Linked DNA regions of Homo sapiens: regions 1 and 3 are each linked to region 2. The links come from fine-mapping of genetic effects on plasma protein levels. A gene starts in region 2. Each other region holds a variant in brackets. All regions are shown on one strand. Distances are from middle to middle.

The links. A credible set is the group of variants that fine-mapping cannot tell apart. PIP is the chance, under the fine-mapping model, that this variant and not a neighbour inherited with it causes the effect. Protein levels are from antibody-based Olink assays in UK Biobank. Linkage for the fine-mapping came from a reference panel and not from the study's own genotypes, which makes the PIPs less certain.
Region 1: its variant is the best candidate, but not a certain one, in a credible set for the plasma level of the GZMH protein (UK Biobank, PIP 0.89).
Region 3: its variant is the best candidate, but not a certain one, in a credible set for the plasma level of the GZMH protein (UK Biobank, PIP 0.74).

What each region holds. Positions count from the first base shown.
Region 1 is chr14:24,616,065-24,624,071 of GRCh38, forward strand. No RefSeq gene overlaps it. Among named protein-coding and RNA genes, the nearest start is that of GZMH, 10 kb to the left of the region's middle. The variant C/T (reference allele first, on the strand shown) is at 4,347.
Region 2 is chr14:24,605,810-24,613,816 of GRCh38, forward strand. It overlaps GZMH (granzyme H), which reads right to left and starts at 3,876. Exons shown (of 5, transcript NM_033423.5): 1 at 3,750-3,876; 2 at 2,456-2,603; 3 at 1,803-1,938; 4 at 1,340-1,597; 5 at 671-937. The coding sequence starts at 3,804. The coding sequence ends at 794. RefSeq lists an enhancer at 1-457.
Region 3 is chr14:24,668,191-24,676,197 of GRCh38, forward strand. No RefSeq gene overlaps it. Among named protein-coding and RNA genes, the nearest start is that of GZMB, 38 kb to the left of the region's middle. RefSeq lists enhancers at 4,851-4,900, 5,140-6,339, 5,231-5,280, 6,601-6,650. The variant G/A (reference allele first, on the strand shown) is at 4,757.

The DNA.
Region 1 (8,007 bases), 10 kb after region 2:
GAAATTATGCAAGGTAGGTATTGATACTATCTCTATTTTTACATGAAAAAGTTGTGATCAAGAGAAGTTAAGTAACTTGCTCAATCTCACACTGTGAGGAGGGAGTAGCCAGGGTTTGAGCATCATAGCTTGATTCCAGAGCATCTGATATTAACCACTACACCACTAAATTCCATGGAATCTGGAAAAAAAGAGGGTCAAAGATTTTTCTACAGCTCTTATGGGGTCCTTTTCTGTGTGAGACTCACAGATACTGGAGATGAGATTCCTTGGCTCTGTTGGAGGACACAAAAACACTAGTGATTAGATAAGGATGGTGAAGGCCATGCTTAGAGGAATGGAAAGAATGATGTGGAGAAATGCAGAAGAAGGTGTGCTTCAGCACTAAAGATTTTAGTCATTTAAAACAATAACAATATTTACCTTGCCCACGAGCCTGCAATTTGGATCAGGGTTGGTGTTGATAGCTTGTCACTGCTCCCCTCCATGTCAGCAGGGGCAACTTGAAGCCTGGAGGCTGGAATCATTTGAAGGTTCACTCACTCACAGGTTCAGCAGTAGTTGCTGGGAGCTTCATGTCTTCTTCATGGCGGCCTCCCTATGTTGCTTCACTGCATGGTATTGTTTCTCACCACTTGGTGGCTGGGTTTCCCAGAGTGATCATCCTCCCAAAAAGTGAGCCAGGCAGAAGCTGTGTCCTTTTTGTTACCTAGACTTTGAAGTCATATGGTATCCATTCTACAACATTCCATTGCTTGGAGCAATCTAAAGCCCCCACCCAGATTTAAAAGAAAGGGACATAGACTTTGCCTCTCAGTGAGAGGAGTGTTGAAGTCATGTAAGGAGAGCTGCTGGGATGGGAGATGTGCAGTGGCAGTCATTACAGAAAGTACAATCTGCCACATTGCGTTAGGTGCATGAAGGATTCGTCAGAGAAGAGTTGAAGCTACTTTGATTGGTATAAGCCTTGGGCATAGCTTTTGGATAGACTGAGATCTGCTTTGTCTAAACTTTATATACTATGAATGGAAGGAGGGTTAGTTTTCCAGGAAGACAATCTCTTTAGTGAATTACTAATTCCATGTGAACTAAAAACTGATGCCAGGGAGCCAAATAGTATCCTCACATTTCTGTCTAGGACACATTTCTGATATCCTTGTACAATAGTCTTCCTTTATCTGCAGTTTCAATTTCTGCAGTTTTGGTTACCCATGGTCAACAGTGCTCTGAAAACAGTAAGATATTTTAAGAGAGAAACCAGATTTACATAACGTTTATTAGAATATATTGTTATAATTGTTCTAGTTTTTTTATTTTACTTTAAGTTCTGGGATACATGTGCTGAACGTGCAGGTTTGTTGCATAGGTATACATGTGCCATGGTGGTTTGCCACACCTATCAACCCATCATCTAGGTTTTAAGCCCTGCATGCATTAGGTATTTGTCCTAATGCTCTCCCTCCTCTTGCCCCCCACCCCCCAATAGGCCCCAGTGTGTAATGTTCCCCTCCTTGTGTCCATGTGTTCTCATTGTTTAACTCCCACTTACGAGTGAGAACATGTGGTGTTTGGTTTTCTGTTCCTGTGTTAGTTTGCTGAGAATGATGGTTTCCAGCTTCATCCATGTCCCTGCAAAGGACATGAACTCATTCTCTTTTATGGTTGCATAGTATTCCATGGTGTATATGTGCCACATTTTCTTTATCCAGTCTATCATTGATGGGCATTTGGGTTGGTTCCAAGTCTTTGCTATTGTAAATACTGCTGCAATAAACATACATGTACATGTATCTTTATAGTAGAATGATTTCTAATCCTTTGGGTCTATACCCAGTAATGGGATTGCTGGGTCAAATGGTATTTCTTGTTCTAGATCCTTGAGGAGTCACCACACTGTCTTCCACAATGGTTGACCTAATTTACACTCCCACCAACAGTGTAAAAGCATTCCTATTTCTCCTCATCCTCATCAGCATCTGTTGTTTTCTGACTTTTTAATGATCACCATTTTAACTGGTGTGAGATGGTATCCCATTTGGTTTTGATTTGCATTTCTCTAATGACCAGTGATGATGAGTTTTTTTTTCACATTTTCATTAGCTGCATAAATGTCTTCTTTTGGGAAGTGTCTGTTCACATCCTTTGCTCATTTTTGATGGGGTTGTTTTTTTCTTGTAAATTTGTTTAAGTTCTGTGTAGATTCTGGATATTAGCCCTTTGTCAGATGGATGGATTGCAAAATTTTTCTCCCATTCTGTAGGTTGTCTGTTCACTCTGATGATAGTTTCTTTTGCTGTGCAGGAGCGCTTTAGTTTAATTAGATCCCATTTGTCAAATTTGGGTTTTATTGCCATTGCTTTTGGTGTTTTAGTCATAAAGTCTTTGCCCATGCCTATGTCCTGAATGGTATTGCCTAGGTTTTCTTCTAGGGTTTTAATGCTTTTAGGTTTTATGTTTAAGTCTTTAACCCATCTTGAATTAATTTTTGTATAAGGTGTAAGGAAGGGGGGTCCAGTTTCAGTTTTCTGCATATGACTAGCCAGTTTTCCTAGCACTATTTATTAAATAGGGGATCCTTTCCCATTTCTTGTTTTTGTCAGGTTTGTCAGATGGTTGTAGATGTGTGGTGTTATTTCTGAGGCCTCTGTTCTGTTCCATTAGTCTATGTATCTGTTTTGATCTGTTTTGCTACCAGTACCATGCTGTTTTGGCTACTGTAGCCTTGTAGTATAGTTTGAAGTCAGGTAGCGTGATGCCTCCAGCTTTGTTCTTTTTGCTTAGGATTGTCTTGGCTATATGGGCTCTGTTTTGGTTCTATATGAAATTTAAAGTAGTTTTTTCTAGTTCTGTGAGGAAAGTCTACCATTGACTTTCCTGGTGTCTTGTTGGTAGCTTGATGGGAATAGCATTGAATCTATAAATTACTTCGGGTACTATGGCCATTTTCATGATATTGATTTTTCCTATCTATGAGCATGGAATTTTATTCCATTTGTTTGTGTCCTCTCTTATTTCCTTGAGCAATGGTTTGTAGTTCTCCTTGAAGAGGTCCTTCACATCCTTTGTAAGTTGTATTCCTAGGTATTTTATTTTCTTTGTAGCAATTGTGAATAGGAGTTCACTCATGATTTGACTCTTGGCTTGACTACTGTTGGTGTACAGGAATGCTTGTGATTTTTGCACATTTATTTTGTATCCTGAAACTTTGCTAAAGTTGATCAGCTTAAGGAGTTTTTGGGCTGAGATGATGGGGTTTTCTAAATATACAATCATGTCATCTGCAAACAGACAATTTGACTTCCTTTCTTCATATTTGAATATGCTTTATTTCTTTATCTTGCCTGATTGCCCTGGCTAGAACTTCCAATACTGTGTTGAATAGGAGTGGTGAGAGAGGGCATCTGTGTCTTGTGCCAGTTTTCAAAGGGAATGCTTCCAGCTTTTGCCCATTCAGTATGATATTGGCTATAGGTTTGTTATAAATAGCTCTTATGATTTTGAGATATGTATCATCAATACCTAGTTCATTGAGAGATTTTAGCGTGAAGGGTTGTTGAATTTTATCGAAGGCCTTTTCTGCATCTATTGAGATAATCATGTGGTTTTTGTCATTGGTTCTGTTTACATGATGGATTAGGTTTATTGATTTACATATATTGAACCAGCCTTGCATCCCAGGAATGAAGCCAACTTGATCGTGATGGAGAAGCTTTTTGATGTGCTGCTGGATTTGGTTTGCCAGTATTTTATTGAGGATTTTTGCATCTATGTTCATCAGTGGTATTGGTCTGAAAAATTTTTTTTTTGTTATGTCTCTGTCAGGTTTTGGAATGAGGATAATGCTGGCTTCATAAAATGAGTTAGGGAGGAGTCCCTCTTTTTCTATTGATTGGAACAGTTTCAGAAGGAATGGTACCAGCTCCTCTTTGTACCTCTGGTAGAAATCAGCCGTGAATCCATCTGGTCCTGGGCCTTTTTCGCTTGGTAGGCTATTAATTACTGCCTCATTTTCAGAATTTGTTATTGGCCTATTCAGGGATTCGACTTCTTCCTGGTTTAGTCTTGGGAGCATGTATGTGTCCGGGAATTTAACCATTTCTACTAGATTTTCTAGTTTATTGGCATAGAAGTGTTTATAGTAGGCCGGGCGCGGTGGCTCACGCCTGTAATCCCAGCACTTTGGGAGGCCGACGCGGGCGGATCACGAGGTCAGGAGATCGAGACCATCCCGGCTAAAACGGTGAAACCCCGTCTCTACTAAAAATACAAAAAATTAGCCGGGCGTAGTGGCGGGCGCCTGTAGTCCCAGCTACTTGGGAGGCTGAGGCAGGAGAATGGCGTGAACC[C/T]GGGAGGCGGAGCTTGCAGTGAGCCGAGATCCCGCCACTGCACTCCAGCCTGGGCGACAGAGCGAGACTCCGTCTCAAAAAGAAAAAAAAAAAAAAGAAGTATTTATAGTATTATCTGATGGCAGTTTGTATTTATATGGGATCAGTGGTGATATCCCGTTTATCTTTTTTTATTGGGTCTATTTGATTCTTCTCTCTTTTCTCCTCTATTAATCTGGCTAGTGGTCTATTTTTTTGATCTTTTCAAAAAACCAGCCCCTGGATTCATTGATTTTTTGAAGGGTTTTTCGTGTCTCTCTCTCCTTTAGTTTCACTCTGATCTTAGTTCTTTCTTGTCTTTTGTTAGCTTTTGAATGTGTTTGCTCTTGGTTATCTAGTTCTTTTAATTGTGATGTTAGGGTGTCGATTTTAGATCTTTCTTGCTTTCTGATATGGGCATTTAGTGCTATAAATTTCCCTCTTAACACTGCTTTAGCTGTGCCCCAGATATTCTGGTATGTTGTTTCTTTGTTCTCATTGGTTTTAAAAAGCTTCTTTATTTCTGCCTTAATTTCGTTATTTTCCCAGTAGTCATTCAGGAGCGGGTTGTTCAGTTTCCATGGAGTTGCATGGTTTTGAGTGAGTTTCTTAATCCTGAGTTCTAATTTGATTGCACTGTGGTCTGAGAGACTGTTTTTTATGATTTCCTTTCTTTTGCATTTGCTGAGGAGTGTTTTACTTCCAATTATGTGTTTGATTTTAGAATAAGTATGATGTGGTGATGAGAAGAATGTATATTCTGTTGATTTGGGGTGAAGAGTTCTGTAGATGTTCATTAGGTCTGCTTGGTCCAGAGCTGAGTTCAAGTCCCAAATATCCTTGTTAATTTTCTATCTTGTTGATCTGTCTAATATTGACAGTGGGGTGTTAAAGTCTCCCACTATTATTGTGTGGGAGTCTAAGTCTCTTTGTAGGTCTCTAAGGACTTGCTTTATGAATCTGGATGCTCCTGTATTGGGTGCATATATATTTAGGATAGTTAGCTCTTCTTGTTGAATTGATCCCTTTACCAATATGTAATGGCCTTCTTTGTCTTTTTTGATCTTTGTTGGTTTAAAGTCTGTTTTATCAGAGACCAAGATTGCAACCCCTGCTTTTTTTTTTTTTGCTTTCCATTTGCCTGGTAAATATTCCTCCATCTCTTTATTTTGAGCCTATGTGTGTCTTTACACCGTGAGATGAATCTCCTGAATAAAGCACACCAATGGGTCTTGACTCTTTATCCAATTTGCCAGTCTGTGCGTTTTAATTGGGGCATTTAGCCCATTTACATTTAAGGTTGGTATTTTTATGTGTGAATTTGATCCTGTCATCATTATGCTAACTGGTTATTTTGCACATTAGTTGATGCAGTTTCTTCATAATGTCATTGGTCTTTATATTTTGGTGTGTTTTTGCAGTGGCTGGTACTGGTTTTTCTTTTCCATATTTAGTGCTTCCTTCAGGAGATCTTGTAAGACATGGCTGGTGGTGACAAAATCTCTCAGCATTTGCTTGTCTGTAAAGGATTTTATTTCTCTTTCGCTTATGAAAATTTATTTGGCTGAATATGAAATTCTGGGTTGAAAATTCTTTTCTTTAAGAATGTTGAATATTGGTCCCCACTCTCTTATGGCTTGTGGGGTTTCTGCAGACAGATCCGCTGTTAGTCTGATGGGCTTCCCTTTGTAGGTAACCTGACCTTTCTCTCTGGCTGCCTTAACATTTTTTCGTTCATTTCAACCTTGGAAAATCTGACAATTATGTGTCTTGTGCTTGCCCTTCTTGAGGAGTATCTTAGTGGTGTTCTCTGTATTTTGTGAATTTGAATGTTGGCCTTTCTTGCCAGGTTGGGGAAGTTCTCCTGATTAATACCCTGAAGTGTGTTTTCCAGCTTGGTTCCATTCTCTCCATCACTTTCAGGGACCCTAATCAATCATAGGCTTGGTCTTTTCACATAGTACCATATTTCTTGGAGGCTTTGTTCTTTCCTTTTTAATTTTTTTCTCTAATCTTGTCTTCACACAGTATTTCAGTAGGTTGATCTTCAGTCTCTCATATCCTTTCTTCTGCTTGATTGATTCTGCTATTGATACTTGTGTTAGCGTCACGTTCTCATGGTGTATTTTTCAGCTCCATCAGGTCTTTTATGTTCTTCTCTAAACTGGTTATTCTAGTTAGCAATTAGTCTAATCTTTTTTCAAGTTTCTTAGTTTCCTTGCATTGGGTTAGAATATGATCCTTTAGCTCAGAGGAATTTGTTATTACCCACTTTCTGAAGCCTACTTCTGTCAATTTGTGAAACTCATTCTCCGTCCAGCTTTGTACCCTTGCTGGAGAGGAACTGTGATCATTTGAAGGAGAAGAAGCATTCTGGTTTTTGAAATTTTTAGCATTTTTGCACTGCTTTTTCCTCATCTTCATGGATTTACTTTCGATGGGATTTTTTTTTTATATGTGTGTGGGGGTCCTTTTTGTTGATGTTGATGTTATTGCTGTTTGTTAGCTTTTCTTCTCACAGTCAGGCCTCTCTCTGCAGGTCTGCTGCAGTTTGCTGGAGGTCCACTCCAGACTCTATGTACCTGGATATCACCAGCGGAAGCTGCAGAATAGCAAAGATTGCTTCCTGGTCCTTCCTCTGGAAGCTTCATCCCAGAGGGGCACTGGCCTGATGTCAGCTGGAGCTCTCCTGTATGAGGTATCTGTCAACTCCTGTTGGGAGATCTCTCCCCGTCAGGAAGCATGTGGATCAGGGATTCACTTGAGAAGGCAGTCTGTCCCTTAGCAGAGCTCGAGTGCTGTGCTGGGAGAACTCTCTTTGTCAGGATCTGCTGCTCTCTTCAGAACCAGCAGGCAGGAATGTTTAAGTCCGCTGAGGCTGTGCCCACAGCCACCCCTTCCCCCAGTTGCTCTGTCCCAAGGAGATTGGAGTTTTATCTATAAGCCCCTGACTGGGGCTGCTGCCTTTCTTTCAGAGATGCCCTGCCCAGTGAAGAGGAATCTAGAGAGGCAGTCTGGCCACAGCCACTTTGCCAAACTGTGGTGAGTTCTGCCCAGTCCAACCTTCCTGGCCTCCTAAGCACTGTCAGGGGAAAACCGCCTACTCAAACCTCAGTAATGGTGGACACCCCTTACTCCACCAAGCTCGATCTTCCTAGGTGGATTTCAGACTGCTGTGCTGGCAGTGAGAATTTCAAGCCAGTGGTTCTTAGCTTGCTGGGCTCTGTGGGAGTGGGACCCACTGAACATGACCACTTGGCTCCCTGGCTTCAGCCCCCTTTCCAGGGGAGTGAACGGTTCTGTCTCACTGGGGTTCCAGGTGCCACTGGGGTACAAAAACAAAAACAAAAACAAAAAACTCCTGCAGCTAGCTTGGTGTCTGCCCAAATAGCTGCCCAGTTTTGTGCTTGAAACCCAGGGTCCTGGTTGTGTAGGCACACAAGGGAATCTCCTGGTCTGCGGATTGCAAAAACCATGGGAAAAGTGTAGTATCTGGACTGGATAGCACAGTCCCTCACAGCTTCTCTTGGCTGGGAAATGGAGGCCCCCCACTCCTTGCACTTTCTGGGTGAGGCAACGCCCCACCCTGCTTCTGCTCACCCTTCATGGACTGCACCCACACCTAACAAGTCCCAATGAGATG
Region 2 (8,007 bases):
AACTCTGTTAGGGACATGAGAGAGAGGCTGGCTTCAGAACAGGGTGATCTAGAAGGGAAAGAAACTGGTAGCCAGGGCACTTGGGTGAAAAACTCTTGGGAGCTGGGAAGGCCGGCCAGGAAGGAAGAAGGTTGACTGAGCTCAGGGCTGGGCCCAGGGCAGGGAAGAGGGACCTAGGTGCAGAGGAGCATCTCAACCTCCTAAGCTGCAGGCAGACCTGGCTGTGGGAGAAGCCTGCCCCCATTGGAGGGACAGGCCCTGAAAATAGGAAACTGAGTACTCATGGCATGGCCCCTGGCCTTCTGAGTCCCTGGAGTTATTTCCTTTCCACTGCCCTGCTCCATTCTCTGCTACGTTGTTAGGGGAGTAGGTAGTTGGTTTAGAGACGATAAGAAATTCCTAACGTCCAGAGAGGTTTATTTTTTTTTGTGAAGGGAGAGGGGTGAAGATTGTTTGTTTATAATGGAGTTCAAACCAGCTCTAACAGAGGGTTCAGTATCAAAGACATGTGATTGAGAAATTAGTGAAAAAACTGTACAGCATGGGGTTTAGGGAGGAGGGAGGGCTGGGGGAGAAAGGAAGAAGCAAAAGCCAGAACTGACAGCAGACGGCTGCCTGGAGCAGTGTTGTTGCATATTGAAGATGGTTCAGTGAATAAATAAGACTTCAGTCATATTTACACCAGAGATCCATTTATTACAGTCCTGCAACCCCGACTGCCCACCCCTTGGGGATTCTTGCCTCTGTCCCAGAGATGGTCAGGCCCAGAGGAAGGTTAGTCTCATGCCTGCTGTTAGAGGCGCTTCATTGTTCTCTTTATCCAGGGCAGGAAGTGTGAGACCTTGATGTAGACTCCTGGAGGTGTCCCTTTTTTGTTTCCATAGGAGAGAATACCTTGGGCTACGTCCTTACACACGAGGGGCCCCCCGGAGTCCCCCTGTGAACAGAGAGAGGAAAGACTGAGCTAGTGTTCCCTGGGATGGGTGGTCTCTGTTATGGATTTTGTGTGACATCAGTGCCAGGCAGGCCTTGTCACTCACCTCCCTCAGTCCTGGGTCTCCAGCATGGCCCTGGCTGTGCTTTCTGGCTCTCCCCAGACCAAGCCTTTCTCTGCAATTCTCACGGACACTTTGGTGATAAGTGACTGTCGGATGACAGATCCTTCCCCTCCAGCCACCCCAGTCCACCCAAGGAGTGGACTAAAGACTAGATTCCAGGGGGACACAGGCTGCCCAAGCTCTGGGCTGAGAGCATAAAGATCTGGCCACTGTCATACCCCAGAACTCCCTCAAGTTCCTCTCTCCCTGTGGTCTTTCTGGGTAGAGGCTGGAAACCCAACCTTGAAACCGGTCTGTGTCTTCTTTGGATCCCCCACACAAATCTCAGTGGCTCTGCTGTAATTGCCATGGAAGAGACGTTCACACTGGCAGTCCTTCTGCACTGTCAGCAACACTTCCTGCAGTGTGGTTGCTAAAGTGCTCATTGAGACATAACCCCAGCCAGCCACACTGCACAGCTGCCCTGGCTTCACCTGGGCCTTGCTGCTAGGTAGCCTGAGAGGCCGCACAGCTGTGGTCCACTTGGCCTTTCTCTCCAGCTGGTGGGGAAGAAGCAAGAAAGTCCAGGTCAGGCAATGGCCTTCTGGGCCCCGACACAGTGATGGGGCTGCACAATCTTCCCTCTCCTCTAAGGCACAGGAACTGACCAAGAGGTCAGGATGGAAAGGAGGAAAGGGCCGGCATCCCAGTGGGAGTGGAACCAACTGGACCAAGAAGAGCAAGAGTGGCAGGAGTGTGCCTCACCTGCAGTAGCATGATGTCGTTGGAGAAGTTCTTAGGATTATAGGCTGGATGGGGGATGGGTCTTTTCACAGGGATAAACTGCTGGGTCCGCTCCTGTTCCTTGATATTGTGGGCCCCCAAGGTGACATTTATGGAGCTGCACAGAGAGCAGAGTGAGGATGGGGGTGGAGTCACAGGGGATAGAGCCCAGGAGCAGTGAAGAGCAGATGACAGCTGTGGCAGGGTAGGGCTGCAGCTGAGGGGAAGTTGAAGGGACAGGAGGGCTCCAGGGCTGAGTGACTGTGCCCTCTACTTCACAAAGACATGAAGAGTAGGGCTTCTGGGGGCTCTCTCTTGCCTTCAGGAAATATCATGAAATTGCTCGAGTTTGCATTTTGATCCTTAATGCATGGATTCAACCTTTACTACTGCCTTATTGGGCCAGTGTGTGAAACCATGCCACTTGCTCTGACCTCTGACCCTCTGACCCTCTGACCCTGTCCTATTTCTCAGCCTTTCATCATCTTAGTCCTATTCCCAGGTGGCTGCTCCGATGAGCTTTCATGGGCTTGTGTTACCAGGAACTCTGGAAGCTCCCCTGGGCTGCAGTCCCCAGGAGAAAACAAGGGTCCCTGTAGGGGGAACTCAGGAGGTGAGCTGGTGCTGCTCCTTACCTTCCCTGGCAGTGAGCAGCTGTCAGCACAAAGTCCTTTCTCACTAGGATGCCGCCACACCTCTTCCGACTCTTCTCTTGCAGAAACTGAACAAAGGCCATGTAGGGGCGGGAGTGGGGCTTGGCCTCATGGCCCCCGATGATCTCCTCTGAAAGGAAAGACTGGAAGATAAAGTAGCTGGGGATGGCTGCAGTCAGGAGAGAAGGCTTAGGACGACAGTGATTGAGGGTGAAGTGTTTTGTGTGCTGCAGACAGTGAGGGAGGGGTCCTCCTGAGCTCTGCAGGCAGTACTCCTTGCAGGCAGAGCAAGCTTTTCTGAACTTTAAGTCTCAGAACCTTCTCTCAGAAAGAATGGACAGTGCTTGACTTCTGCATCCTACTGCAGAAACACACATGGAGGAAGAAAGATCTATTTTCACAGTGGTAGAGCCCCAGAGGATCCTGGACAGGACTTCCCAGGCTCCTCCTTTTTAGTGAGTCTCTCTGATTCCTCTGAGCCTCTGCTGTCCTCCTGATTGGTGCCATTTTCTAATGATCTACCCATGAGCTTCTGGAGTTGGATTTTCTAAAATTCTCATGTGCCAGGGCTGAACACATTCTAGGTTCTCAGTAAGTGTTGTTTGGTGCATAAATGAATAGCCTCCAATTAGCCTTTGGCTGAGGTTTAGTGGGGGTAGTGCTGGTGGGATTCAGGACCTCAGGGATGTTAGAGGGGGTTATCACCAGGTCAGTGGAGTAGCTGAGGGCCTGCAAAGGCAGAAGGAAGTGGAGAAATCAACTAAAAATGAATCGCAAAGCCCAGGTGGAGCCAAGGTAATGGGAGAGCTATGGACACAGTCATCTTGCCATCTCTGAGATCAGTTGCACCATGGGCTTCCCTCCTGGCAGGGGTGACTGGGTGGGGGCACTGAATAAGTGGTTCTTAAGCTGAGTCCAGTAACAACTCCTATGACTGCAACTTGGTGTCTGAGCTCCTCTTTCCTGGGTTGGAGTGTAGAGTAATAATTACTTATCTTTTTTAGCTTCACATTCCCTACCAAATGCCTTTCTAAGAACAATCCACACTCCAGGTCATAAAGGAGAGGTCTAGGGAGAGGCTAACACCCATTAAACCTTTTAGGGAACACCCTTCATTTTTCGATCTTTGCTGAGTGTCTATCTAGCCTCAGATTTATAAGTCTGGGTGTGGAATGGGAGGTGGGCTCAGATTGAGGAAAATTCCTGACCAGTGCTCATGGGTACAGGGTATCTTATAAGATGGGTTCAGGCCTCTGGAATAGGGATAGTCACTTACCTGTCCCAGCCCCAGGGGTCAGAAGAAAGGCCAACAGGAGGAGGAATGGCTGCATTTTCTCAGGAAGGCTGCCCAGGTCAGAGCTGTTGGTGTTGACTCCTTCCAGAAACAAATGCTGGAGGGAGATGAAGGAGGGATGGGTACAGTAAACTCAGAGACCTCCTAGACTTGTCCCCTTCTGGTTTTGATGGGTGTCATTATAGAAGGTGGTTTATTAAAATTATCTGGTTTGGTTTAAGTTGACATGGCACTGTCACATTTACACCCCTGCTGCTGAGTAACAAGGTGAAAGCAAGAATAAAGAACAAGGAGGTGGAGCTGTTGAAGCTGTGGCTGCAGCTAGCAGAAAGGCTGGTACTGCAGAAGCTCCTCAGTGACTGAGAACCAAGAATGTCTCCTTTTCTCAGTTCTTGGCTCTTTTTCTACTCAGATAAAATCATGAATAATTATTTAGCAAGCCAGATCCAGGGATATGAGAGACATGGCTCTTGCCCTTGAAGAATTGATGGTTAGCAAGAGTAGACTGAAAATCTGGGGTTAGAGCACAAGATGGTAAGGGCCGTGGTGGGGAAATCTGCCTGTTGGTGTGAGACGGAGGCTGGACTTGCCTTAGCAGTATGCAGAGTTGCACACACCCAACAAATACTGCAAATGGCAACCCATTCCTATCTTACCACTATCTCAGATTCATATTTTTGGGATATTTAGAATCCCCTCTTTAAATATAAATATTCTGTGACAAAGATAACTTTTTTTATTCCACAGTTCTGCACAAAAGTTCTGGACTTGATATTTATTGAACCAAAATGAGTCATCATTGGGTCCACTGAAGTGTAGTGGACTGATTGCTTTATGCTTTGGTTATTTAGCCCTCCTTAAGCTGAGGTGGGGACTGTTCCACTCCATCTATGGTGCTTATGAATGAGGAGGGGATTTCCCTTGAGAAATGCTAGTTGTTGTTGCCAGGTGATGGAAAAATGGATGCTGATCATCCTGATAATAATTGTTCACTAAGGCCGGGCGCGGTGGCTCATGCCTGTAATCCTAGCACTTTGGGAGGCCAAGACGGGTGGATCACGAGGTCAGGAGATCGAGACCATCCTGGTTAACATGGTGAAACCCCATCTCTACTAAAAATACAAAAAATTAGCCGGGCGTGGTGGCGGGCTCCTGTAGTTCCAGCTACTTGGGAGGCGGAGGCAGGAGAATGGCGTCAACCCAGGTGGAGCTTGCAGTGAGCTGAGATCGCGCCACTGCACTCCAGCCTGGGTGACAGAGCGAGACTCCATCTCAAAAACAAACAAACAAACAAACAAAAAACTGTCCACTAAGTATTCTCTCAGTTTCCAGAGAGCCATGTCTCTGATGTCCCTTGGCTCACAGTCATAGGCTGTCCATAAACAAAAATGTGTATATATACATATGTTTGTATATTTATGTATATGAATATATATAAATATATATGTATAGTTAAGTAGGAACATGTAAATGATAAAATTAAACTTACCAAAAATTCTACCACCGGAGATCATTATTAATGCTTAAGCATGTTTCCTTCTACTATTTTTCTAGGTATTTATAAGGTGCTATTCCTGCTATTACTTTAACAGAACTGGGATAGGACTTTAGGTGATAGACTTTTTTGTGATGAATTTTCCAGGTGTTCTTTGAGCTTCTTGTATTTGGATGTCTAGGTATCTAGCAAGGACAGGGGAGTTTTCTTCAATTATTTCCTCAAATAAGGTTTTCAAGCTTTTAGATTTCTCTTCTTCCTCAGGAACACCAATTATTCTTAGGTTTGACTGTTTAACATAATCCCACATTTCTTGGAGGCTTTGTTCATTTTTTAAAAATTATTTTTTCTTAGTCTTTGTTTGATTGGGTTAATTTGAAAGCATTGTCTTTGCGCTCTGAAGTTTTTTCTTCCGCTTGTTCTAGTCTAGTGTTGAAACTTTCCAGTGGATTTTGTATTTCTCTAAGCATGGCTTTCATTTCCAGAAGTTGTGATTATTTTTTCTTTATGATATCTATTTCTCTGGGGAATTTTTCACCCATATCCTATATTTATGTATATATATATTTTTTAATTTTTAAAGTTGTTTTTTCACCTTTCTCTGGTATCTCCTTGAGTAGCTTAATGATCTTCTGGATTGTTTATCTGGCAATTCAGAGATTTCTTCTTGGTTTGGATCCATTGCTGGGGAGCTAGTGTGATCTTTTGGAGGTGATATAGAACTCTGTTTTATCATATTACCAGAATTACCTTTCTAGTTCCTTATCATTTGGGTAGACTATTTCAGTGGAAAGGTCTGGAACTCAAGTCCTGCTGTTCAGATTCTATTATCCCATGGGGTGATCCTTTGATGTGGTGCTCTCCCCCTTCCCCTAGGGATGGGACTTTCTGACCACTGGACTGCATTGGCTGTTACTGCTTTTCTGGGTCTAGCCTCCCAGTGGCGCTACCAGGTTCCAGCTGGTGCTGGGGAATGTCTGCAAAGAGTCCTGTGATGTGATCTCTCTTCAGGTCTCCCAGCCATGGATACCATTACCTGCTCTGGTGGAGGTGGAAGGGGAGTGAAGTAGACTCTGTGAGAGTCCTTGGTTGTAGATATGTGTAGTGTGCTGGGTTTCTTGAATGCTGGTTATGCTAGCAGTGAAGTTTTCATGTGGACACACTCAGGACCTCTGTTTAGCCAGGATGTTGCAGGCATTGGAATTAGGTGTTATCTTCTCCTTCCTGGGTTCAGGGTTATTCTGTCATGAGTTGCTGTAATGGCCTGTGTTGTTTGGCCTCCAGCCAAGAAGTGGTGCTTTCAAGAGAGCACCAGCTGCATTGGTAGTAGAGGGATCTAGGTTTGCCCTAAGTTGGCCAGGGTGAGTATTTTGGTTTCTCAGATGATGGGTGGGGCCTGAAAGCTCCCAAGAGTTTCTATCTTTTGTGTTTGGTTACCAGGGTGAGTAAAGAAATACCATCATGTTGGGGCAGGGTTAGGTGGGTCTGGGCTCAGAGTCTCCTTGGGTGGGGTTTGCTGTGGCCACTGTGCGGGATGTGGGGGTGGTTCTTAGGCCAATGGGGTTATTTTCCAGAGGGGATCTTGGCTACCTCTGTTGTGTCATATAATTCACCAGGGAAGTGGCGGAAAGCTGGTAGCGAGAGGTCTCACCCAGCTCCCACACAGTTGGCAAGGCCAGTCTCACTCCCAAAGTGCCCCACTCAGATCTTGCCCAAGGCTGTGAACTTTCCCACTGAGAAAGCAAGCATGGATTTCAGATATCACCCCTCCCCATCTGCCCACTCCAACGGGAGTGGCTTCTTTGCTTCTGAGTTCATGTGCTCATATTGCCAAAGCTCCCACTCGTCCCCTAGACTCCACTAAAGAAAGTTTGTGTCCAATTGAAACCACTACCAATTTCAGTTGGAAGCTTCCTTCACCTGGTGACCCCTCCCCAATTCCACTGGCTGCCTTCCCTGAGAGATCCTGTGAGATATAGTCAGGAATGGCTTCCCTGGGCTCAAGCTGAAGATTGGAAGTGCCTTGCAGTCTTCTGATACTGATACTTCTACTTTTATATTTTGTGTGACTGCCTACATTTGTTTCAGTTCAAGGTAAGGTTAAATTCTCCCTTGATCTGGATTTTCAGATTCCCCAGTGGGGATGTGTGTTCAGAGGCAGGTTTTTTCCCTCTCACACTTTGGGAACTTACAGTTTTTCACCTGTTTTGCAAAATTTGCAGCAGTGTCCTGCTTCTTTCAAAGGGTGTGTGAATTCCTTTGGTTTTCCTGGTGTGTTCCCGTGGTGGTTCTTGGAACAAAAGAACACAGTATGAGTCTTCACATACTGTTGTGTCCATCTAAGTGGGAGTTGCATGTGGGTTTAAAGAAACCTGACTCATGAAGGACTTCCCATTTTTTGTACTGCCATGATCATCAGTGCATTATTACTGTCTCACACTGTTTCTTCATAGTGTCTCTCATCCTTCAGATCTCACCTTTTACTGGTATTATTATGGATCCTAGTAATTTATTTAAAAAACAGCAAAAGCTTAAACTCTCCTCCTTTGAGTCTCATGGGGTTGGAGTGGAGTTGTTGGTTTGGATCCTTGCCCAGGTAGCTTTCAGATCCAGCCCTCATCTTCCTGCTGCTCTTCTCTGTGACACAGTCTACATCACACAGATTTCTCTGTCTGACAGCTCTGTCTTCTTGGACCAAGCCAATGGGTGGTGCTGAAGAATTAGGGTCTTTTTCCTTCCCACTCT
Region 3 (8,007 bases), 62 kb after region 2:
ATCCTAGATTCTGGGTTTGGAAGTTTGTGAAAGACTATTGGGAAAGGAAAAAGGAAGGATAAAGTTTGAGGGGGAAAGCAATGTGACTTGAAGATTCAGGAGGTGGGGAGGGGTTTTCCTTAGCCTAGAAAAAGATATCCCTTGCCTGGGGGTTGGGTGAAGGCTGTGCATTCTGAGACCTCTGAGACTTTCTCAAGCTCTTTGGAGGCAGAGACAGATAAGAGCCAGATTTCATGGAAGTGGCAGAAAAAATGGAGCACTGGGCTTAGGGCTATTAGCTTCCATTGAAATTCCTGTCATCCTAATGGGTGTGAACACTGCAGAGAGTCACAGAATGGTAGGAGACTCTGCTCAGAGAGAACAAACGTGTTATCAGTAAACCTCCTGGATTGATGGCATGTGACCAGGGAGAGAACTTGCCAGCCCGTCAGCCTTGGTGTTAAGACCCTGGAACTATTACTTGTCCTTAGGTTGAAGTAAGTCTCAAGAATGGCTAACTAAAGTTAAATTCCTTGCCAGCTCAAATGCATGGCATGCTTGAGTCAAAATTACATCAATTTATAGAAAATAAAAGATGTGTTATATTTCAAATTTTGTAATTTTAGACTTTACACATGTATGTTGATAAGTTTGAGTGCCATATTTTATACAAATGCAATGCTTATTTGTGAAAAGATAACTGAACAACCTAACAGAATCTACAAACTAATAAAAAGTTCAACAGGGTTGCTAGATACAAGATAATTATCAGCATCAATTAAGTTCTAGACACTTACAAAAATTATGACATATAATTTTAAAAAGAATTTTATTTACAGTAGAAACAAAGTCTCTAAGGTATCTAAAAATAAGTAATAGGTACCTGAGGCTTTTATGGAGAAAGTTATTTTTAAAAAAGAAAAGTAAACAGGGAAACATACTTAATCTCTGGATGAGAAGACTCAACATTTTTAAAGATGTCGATTCTCCCAAAATTAATTGACATGTGATACCATTCTCATCAAAAGCCCAATAGGGGTTTTCAAGGAAATTATGTTGTTTTTAAAATTTGACTAGAAAACCAAAAGGCCTAGAATAACCCAGAAAAAAATTAGAGTAGAAAAATATGGGAGCTTACCTTACTAAATACGAATATTTGTTACAAGACTACAGTTATTAGGACAATGCAGCATTTATACAGAAATTAAAAAAAAAACTAGTAGAAGAAAGTAGAAAGTTCAGAAATTGACCTCCTCATCTATGAACTCAATATACTACAAAGCATGAGGAACTAATAGGGAAAAAAATGGAGCCTGATCAGTGGTGCTGGATGATTCATTATTCATGTGGGGGAAAAATTAAGTTACACCTTTAATTTACACCATTACCAAATAGAAGTTAAAGACAGTTATAGACCTGAATGTAAGAAACAAATGTTTATAAGTTTAAAAGAAAAGATAGAATATCCTATGACTTTAGGGTGTAGATAGAGTATCCTATGACTTCAGGGTAGAGAAGTTTCCTTAACTAAACACAAAAAGCACAGACCACAAAAGAAAATGTTAATATATTAACATTTAAGTGAAAAAGATCTGCACACTAAAAGAAACCATAAAGAAAGTTAAAAGACATGAATTCCAGAGCAATCTATTCCCATGAAGCATGTTCTTTTGGCAAGACATAGGTTTGGCAACAGATTTACTCAAGTTTGAATATTAGCTTGACCGTTTACTAACTTTGTGACTTAAGACCAAGTTATTTGAACTCTTGAGCTGTTTCCACATACATTAAAAAATGTCAGCACACAGGACTGCTAAAATGATTAAATGAGATAAGGTATGTGAAATACCATGCCCAGAGCTTGGCACATGGTAGGTACCAACCATAAACCAATTTAATGGTGTGGTTTTACCCAGGTAAATGCTGGTGAACTTTACATCTTCATTGTGAGCCAAATACATAAAGCTGACCTAGTTCGCAGATTTTAACCCTATAATTTCCCCTGCACATGCCAGCCATTTAGAAATAGTGGAACAACTCTTATGTCCCCCTTAATTATTTTATTTTTTTAAAGAGGGCTGTCTTTAATTTTCGATTTATCTTCTGAGATTATTTCAAATCTTCTTATCCATGTCAAATTTTATCTTCACTTCTTATTGACCCAATGGATGTTAACCATCTTCATACTCCGGAACATTCTTTATGGTAACCTAAGTGTAGCCTGTTATTTAGAATAGGAAACCATCATCAAACTGGTTTATTCTGCAGGCACTAGTCATGTATGAAACCACCTAACTTAGTACCTGGAACAAAATTGATGCTTAATAAACTTGTGTGGAATATAAGTCATCATAATGTTAAAGATTCTATTAAAAATTATAAATATTTCAACATTTAAAACATGGAGAAAATAGTGCCATAATACCCATGCACTCATCATCCAGATTAAACAGTTGTCAAGGCTTACTATATTTTAAAAAAAATGCTACTTTAAGTATTGCACACTGAAATCTGTTCTGAGTCAAACATTAGAAAAGATTTGGAAAAAAGTATGACCTGGTATTACCTCAGCCATGGCATCACATCCCTTCTTGTGACACATCAGTCATGGGTGGGCTCTCCAATAGGCTCACCACAAACACCTGGGATCGAATGCCAGGAAAGGTGAGGGAGGACCCTTCTTCACACTTCAGGCACACAGAAATGAAAGTTGAAGAAGAGGTGACTGTGGTTGATTGTTCCAGTAATGTGCAAATCATAGGTCAGGTCTTTTAAATACTATTCTGTCATATCAAATGAATCCAACCATATTACAGCAAAGGCTTTTCTGGAAGGTGAAAAATTTACATGCCATACTCCACTTTAATTAAAAACAATGAATGAATGTAAAGTCCACATCGACACGGAAATTTTTCCTGGAAAAATGACAGGGTTTCTCCACTGGGGCCTATACTCCACTTCATTTGTGTTAGGAAACTCTGAGGAGAACCCACACCCACATGTGTAGATTGAGTTTCCATTATCCACCTGATGATTCTCAAATATAGAGGTCCAGTCCAGAATTCTCTCCCTAGCTCCAGATTGATAATCCTAATTGACTTCTGGCACCTTCAGTTGGATTCTCCATGGACATATCAAACTCAAGGTACAAAACTGGGCTAATTATTTCCTCTCCCTTTCCAAATGGAACCTTCTGGAACACCTCAGTATTCTTGGGTTTAACTTTCATAAACTACTCCTACTTTTAGAAAATTGAAGTAAAATCTACATGACATAAAATTAACCATTTTAAAGTGCACAGTTCAGTAGCATTTAGTACATTCATACTGTTTTGAAATCATTATCTCAAGACATTTTCATCACCCCAAAAGGAAACTTCCATACCCATGAAACAATCACACTCCATTCCTCCATTTCCCCCAGCCCCCGAAAAACACAATGTATATCTATGGATTTATCTGTTCTAGATATTTAATATAAATGGAGTCATGTAATATGCAACCCTTTGTGTTTGTCTTCTTTAACTCAATGTAATGTCTTCAAGGTTCACCCATGTTGTAGCATGAATCAGTACTTCATTCCTTTTTAAGGCTGAATAATATTCTACTGTATAGATATATCACATTTTATTATCTATTCATCAGTTGATAGATATTACCCACTTTTTAGCTATTGTGTATAGTGCTGCTAATGTTGAGCAACTGTCAAACTCTTCATCATTTTACATTTACATTCTACCTTTTATATTCCTGCAGCAACGTACAAGGATTCTAATTTCTCCACATTCTTGCCAACACTTGCTTTCCTTTAAAACATTAATTTTTATTTTAGCTATCCTAGTAGGTATGAAATGGTATCTCATTGTGGTTCTGATTCCTGTTTCCCTAATGTCTAATGATATTGAACCTCCCTCTCCCTATCTGCTCATGTCTAGTCTTGTGACATTAGGAAGAGGCAAATTTATAGCTCATTTTAGAAACATAACTGAAGTTTGAGGCAATGCATTCTTGGATACCAACCTTAATCCTGGCTTCATTTATATTAGCACCCTTACTTCCCCTTTATTTTTAACTCTTCATTTAAAATTTTTATTTATTATGTGGTACAAAATTTTTGCAAGCTGCCTTTTTTATTTTTTAAAATCTAGAGTATAAGTAAATTTAAAAGTCCCATGTCATTTACCTCTTATCCTTTTTTAAAAAGCAAAACAAAACAACTTTTATTGTTTTCTTTAAACACACATAAACTAAATGTTTATTTTGGAAATTTACAAATTGGACTCAACACGTAAAAAAGTAAAAAGAGTAAAATAAAAATCTTCTATAAACACACCACTAACCATGGTTAGTATTTTGGCATTATTTTTTCAGTCTTTACCTATATACCTATATATCATCTCTCTAGTCACACTACTTTTTAAAAATGAGATTATATTATACATTCTTTTTTCATAACATACTATTTTCATCTAACAATATATCATGATCATTTTACCTCATAATTAACTATGCTGCCATGGTTGTAAATTTTTAAACTTTGATTTGCATTATCACTGGAGTTACCTATTAAAATAAAGATTCCAAGTCTACTCCCAGTGCTTCTGACTCCGTCATTGGGATCCACATCCAGAAATCTGTATTTTTTACAGGCTTCTGAGCGATTCTAATATGGGCCATCTTGGGCTCTTTGAGATTACTTCCACACTACTAATTTCAACTATTGCTGAATTTTTCATTGTGTGGATACAGCACTATTTATTCAACCAGTTACTTATTTG[G/A]GGTCATTTAGATTATTGGTATTTTTCATTATTTTATTCATCTGCTGAAAAAATCCTTATTCCTACAACTTTGCTGTCATCCATGACTGAGCATTTGTTGCTTATACCCAAACTGTGTGGTATGTTACAGTGATGGGGCTTGGTGAGTGCTCTTCTCATCATTGAATGGGGATTGAGATGCAGATGCTGGAGAAAGCCTCTCAAAAAGCCACATCAGGCCCTGAAATGTGATTGAGAGGACTTAGGGTTTCACAGGAGAAGTGGAAAGGGGAAGCAGCTCAGTGTGTGAGGAAGTGAGATTCAAATTCCGTGTGCTTGAACCTGGAAGCCAAAAGAGCTTATACACCTGGGGCCCAGCCAGCAGTCGCTTATTTCTCTAGAAACTAAGAGAGGGACTAAAATACTCCCTTTTGTTGAAAATTTCAAAGTGGGGGCATCAGCCTTGGGTCAAAAAGAAGGAATAATGGGAGGAGAGAGAGCAGAATGAGACAGCACAGCTTTCTGTCCCAGCACAGCTCATGAAAGAGAGGCCATGCAAAATGAAAGCATTCTTTGCACTAAAAATTTCTGAGAGACACCAAGGCACAAATAGAGTTGCTTTGGTGTTGAAATGTCAAAAGAGGTGTAGCCACCATTTAGGGATGTGACACATTGAGGTTTGGATGCTTTAAAGAACTTCAAAGAAAACGCAGCATCTTTTTGGGTCTTGATGGCCGGTGCCCTTTCAAAGAACATTAGAGAAGATGATGGCTCAGTGGTGTCACCACAGATAGTGCTGAAGTGCTTTGATGTAGCTTTGCGGGCTGTATCAGTCTCAGCAGGAAGAAGGATGAGTCAATGTCGAAGAAAGGAAAACCTAGTTCCGGGGACTGGCCAAGGACTTGCGTGTGAGAACTTGCGATGCATCTCCTTTGAGGGACTTTCAGGAATTATGTGGAAGGAGGGAAAAGGTGAGGATGTGAGTAGTGTACCTGGAATCCCAAAATTCTACATTAGGAATGGAGACAAAAGGCAGAAAAATTCAGGTCACTCATGGACCAGAGCTACAAGGGAAGTGCCCACCTAAGAAGTTGTAGAGGGCGGTGTGTGCTGGAAAGGATTGCTCATGTCCATGTGGGGTGTGTGATTACAGGAGTGGGTGAGGGAAAGGGTATCCTCTGAATCATTTATCAGAAGCCCCTCAGGGGCGACCAGAACCCCTAGGTTATTTCTTAGCAAACTCAGCCTCTTTTCTCATTTTGAGGTGGGTGAGGAAAACTAATTTTCCTCTCCGCCCCCATTTCTCCTGCTCCCCACCCTAAGCTCACTGAGAGTGAATGTTTGCCCCTGAAATAGAATCAGTTCTAAGAAAACTCCCTCGACATCCTGCTCCATGTCAAAATAAAATATGACTGTGGGTGGGGGAATGGAAAGAGGGGTGGTCGGGGGCTGAGGTCATTGCTGAGGATGGGCTGTCCTTGTGCAAAAGGAGCTTATGGAGTGGCCCCATGGAAGAAGCAGGTACATGCTGTAAGTAAAGCACAAAATCTCTAGGTGTCTGGGTTGGTCCCAGCAAAAGCCTAAGAGTGCCCAGAACCGGATGTAGCAGCTTCCTGTTTGCTATTTCACACAACTCTGCAAAGAGCAACAAGGTTTTTCAGCCATATCCAGATTACACTTGTCTACTTGAATTTATTAATTAATCTGGGGAGAATTACCATTTTTAAAACTTTGTGTGTTCCCATCTGTAACATTCAGCAATATTTTTGATTCAAGTGAGAGAAACCTGACATAGCAGTGCAAACAGTAACGGTTTCTGTTTCTTATATGACAACCAGTCTGGAGATGAGCAGTCCAGGGCTGCTGAAGTGACTGTGTAATGTTTCTCATCAGTGTCTTGGACTTCTGTATGTATATGTTGATATTCCCCCTTATGCTTATTGCTTCCTTGCCACAAGATGGTTGCAGCTACTCCAGGCATCAAGTCAGATTTGTATCAGGAACAAGGAAGAAGAAAGAGGGTTGATGCCTCACCCAAAAAGCAAAAGAAAAAATAAAATAACAATAAAATAGAAATGATCTCAGACTTTTGTTTACCTTTTATTGGTCAGAACTTTGTAAAATATTATGCCTATCTGAAAGAAAATTTAGCAAAAATATATTTTATACTCCTCTCTCCCTAAATTTTGAATTTTGTTCACAAAAAAGGTGATGCCAAGGTTTCGTATAGATAACTTGTAGCTCTGCTACACCATCCATCAATATTTTATATCTTTTCAATTTATTAAGTCTTCTTTTATGTTCCTTATAAGCTTTTATTATTTTAATCTGTACATATCTTACATCTCTGTTGGATTTGTTTCTAGACATCCTGTACTTTTATTACTGTTACCTTTAAAAATACATATTTTCATTGGTTGTTGTATAGGAATTGGTTTTTGTATATTGAGCTCATTGAGTATAATTAGTTGTACTAGTTTGTAGATTCTCTTGGGTCATCTATGTAGAGAAGATAGACAGGCATATCATCTATAAACATTACTACTTTATTTTATTTCCCAATCCTTACATTTATTCCCTTTTCTTATCTTATTGATAGGTTGGGACCTCAAATACAAGCCCATTTAGAAGGAAGGCTAGAAAGGTAAAAGTTTCTAAGATTATACCATTTAGATATTTGCTATTTTTTTATTATTTGTTTTTGTAGTTCATGCAAGAGGGGTGGTTTGTATTAGGGTAGTGGCGGTAGAGAAAAATAGAAGTGACTATGTTTGTTGAGGTATTTAGGAAATGGAACCACAGGGACTTGGTGATTGATGCATTTGTGGGGTAAGGAAAAGAATGAAGCCAGTTAAAAAAACATTGTATTTTGACATAATTTCAGGATTACAGAAAAGTTGCAAGAATAAGACAAATAATTTCTGGACACCCCTCACCAAGATTCAAAATGTCAACATTTTCTACATTTCTCACTCTTTCTCTCTCTTTCTTCTTCTTATTATTATACTTTAAGTTTGGGGATACATGTGCAGAACGTGCAGGTTTGTTACATAGGTATACACGTGCCATTGTGGTTTGCCGCACCCATCAACTCGTCATCGACTTTAGGTATTTCTCCTAATGCTATCCCTCCCCTAGCCCCCCACCCCCCAGCAGGCCCTGGTGTATGATGTTCTCCTCCCTGTGTCCATGTGTTCTCATTGTTCAACTCCCATTTATGAGTGGGAACATGCAGTGTTTAGTTTTCTGTTCCTGTGTTAGATTGCTGAGAA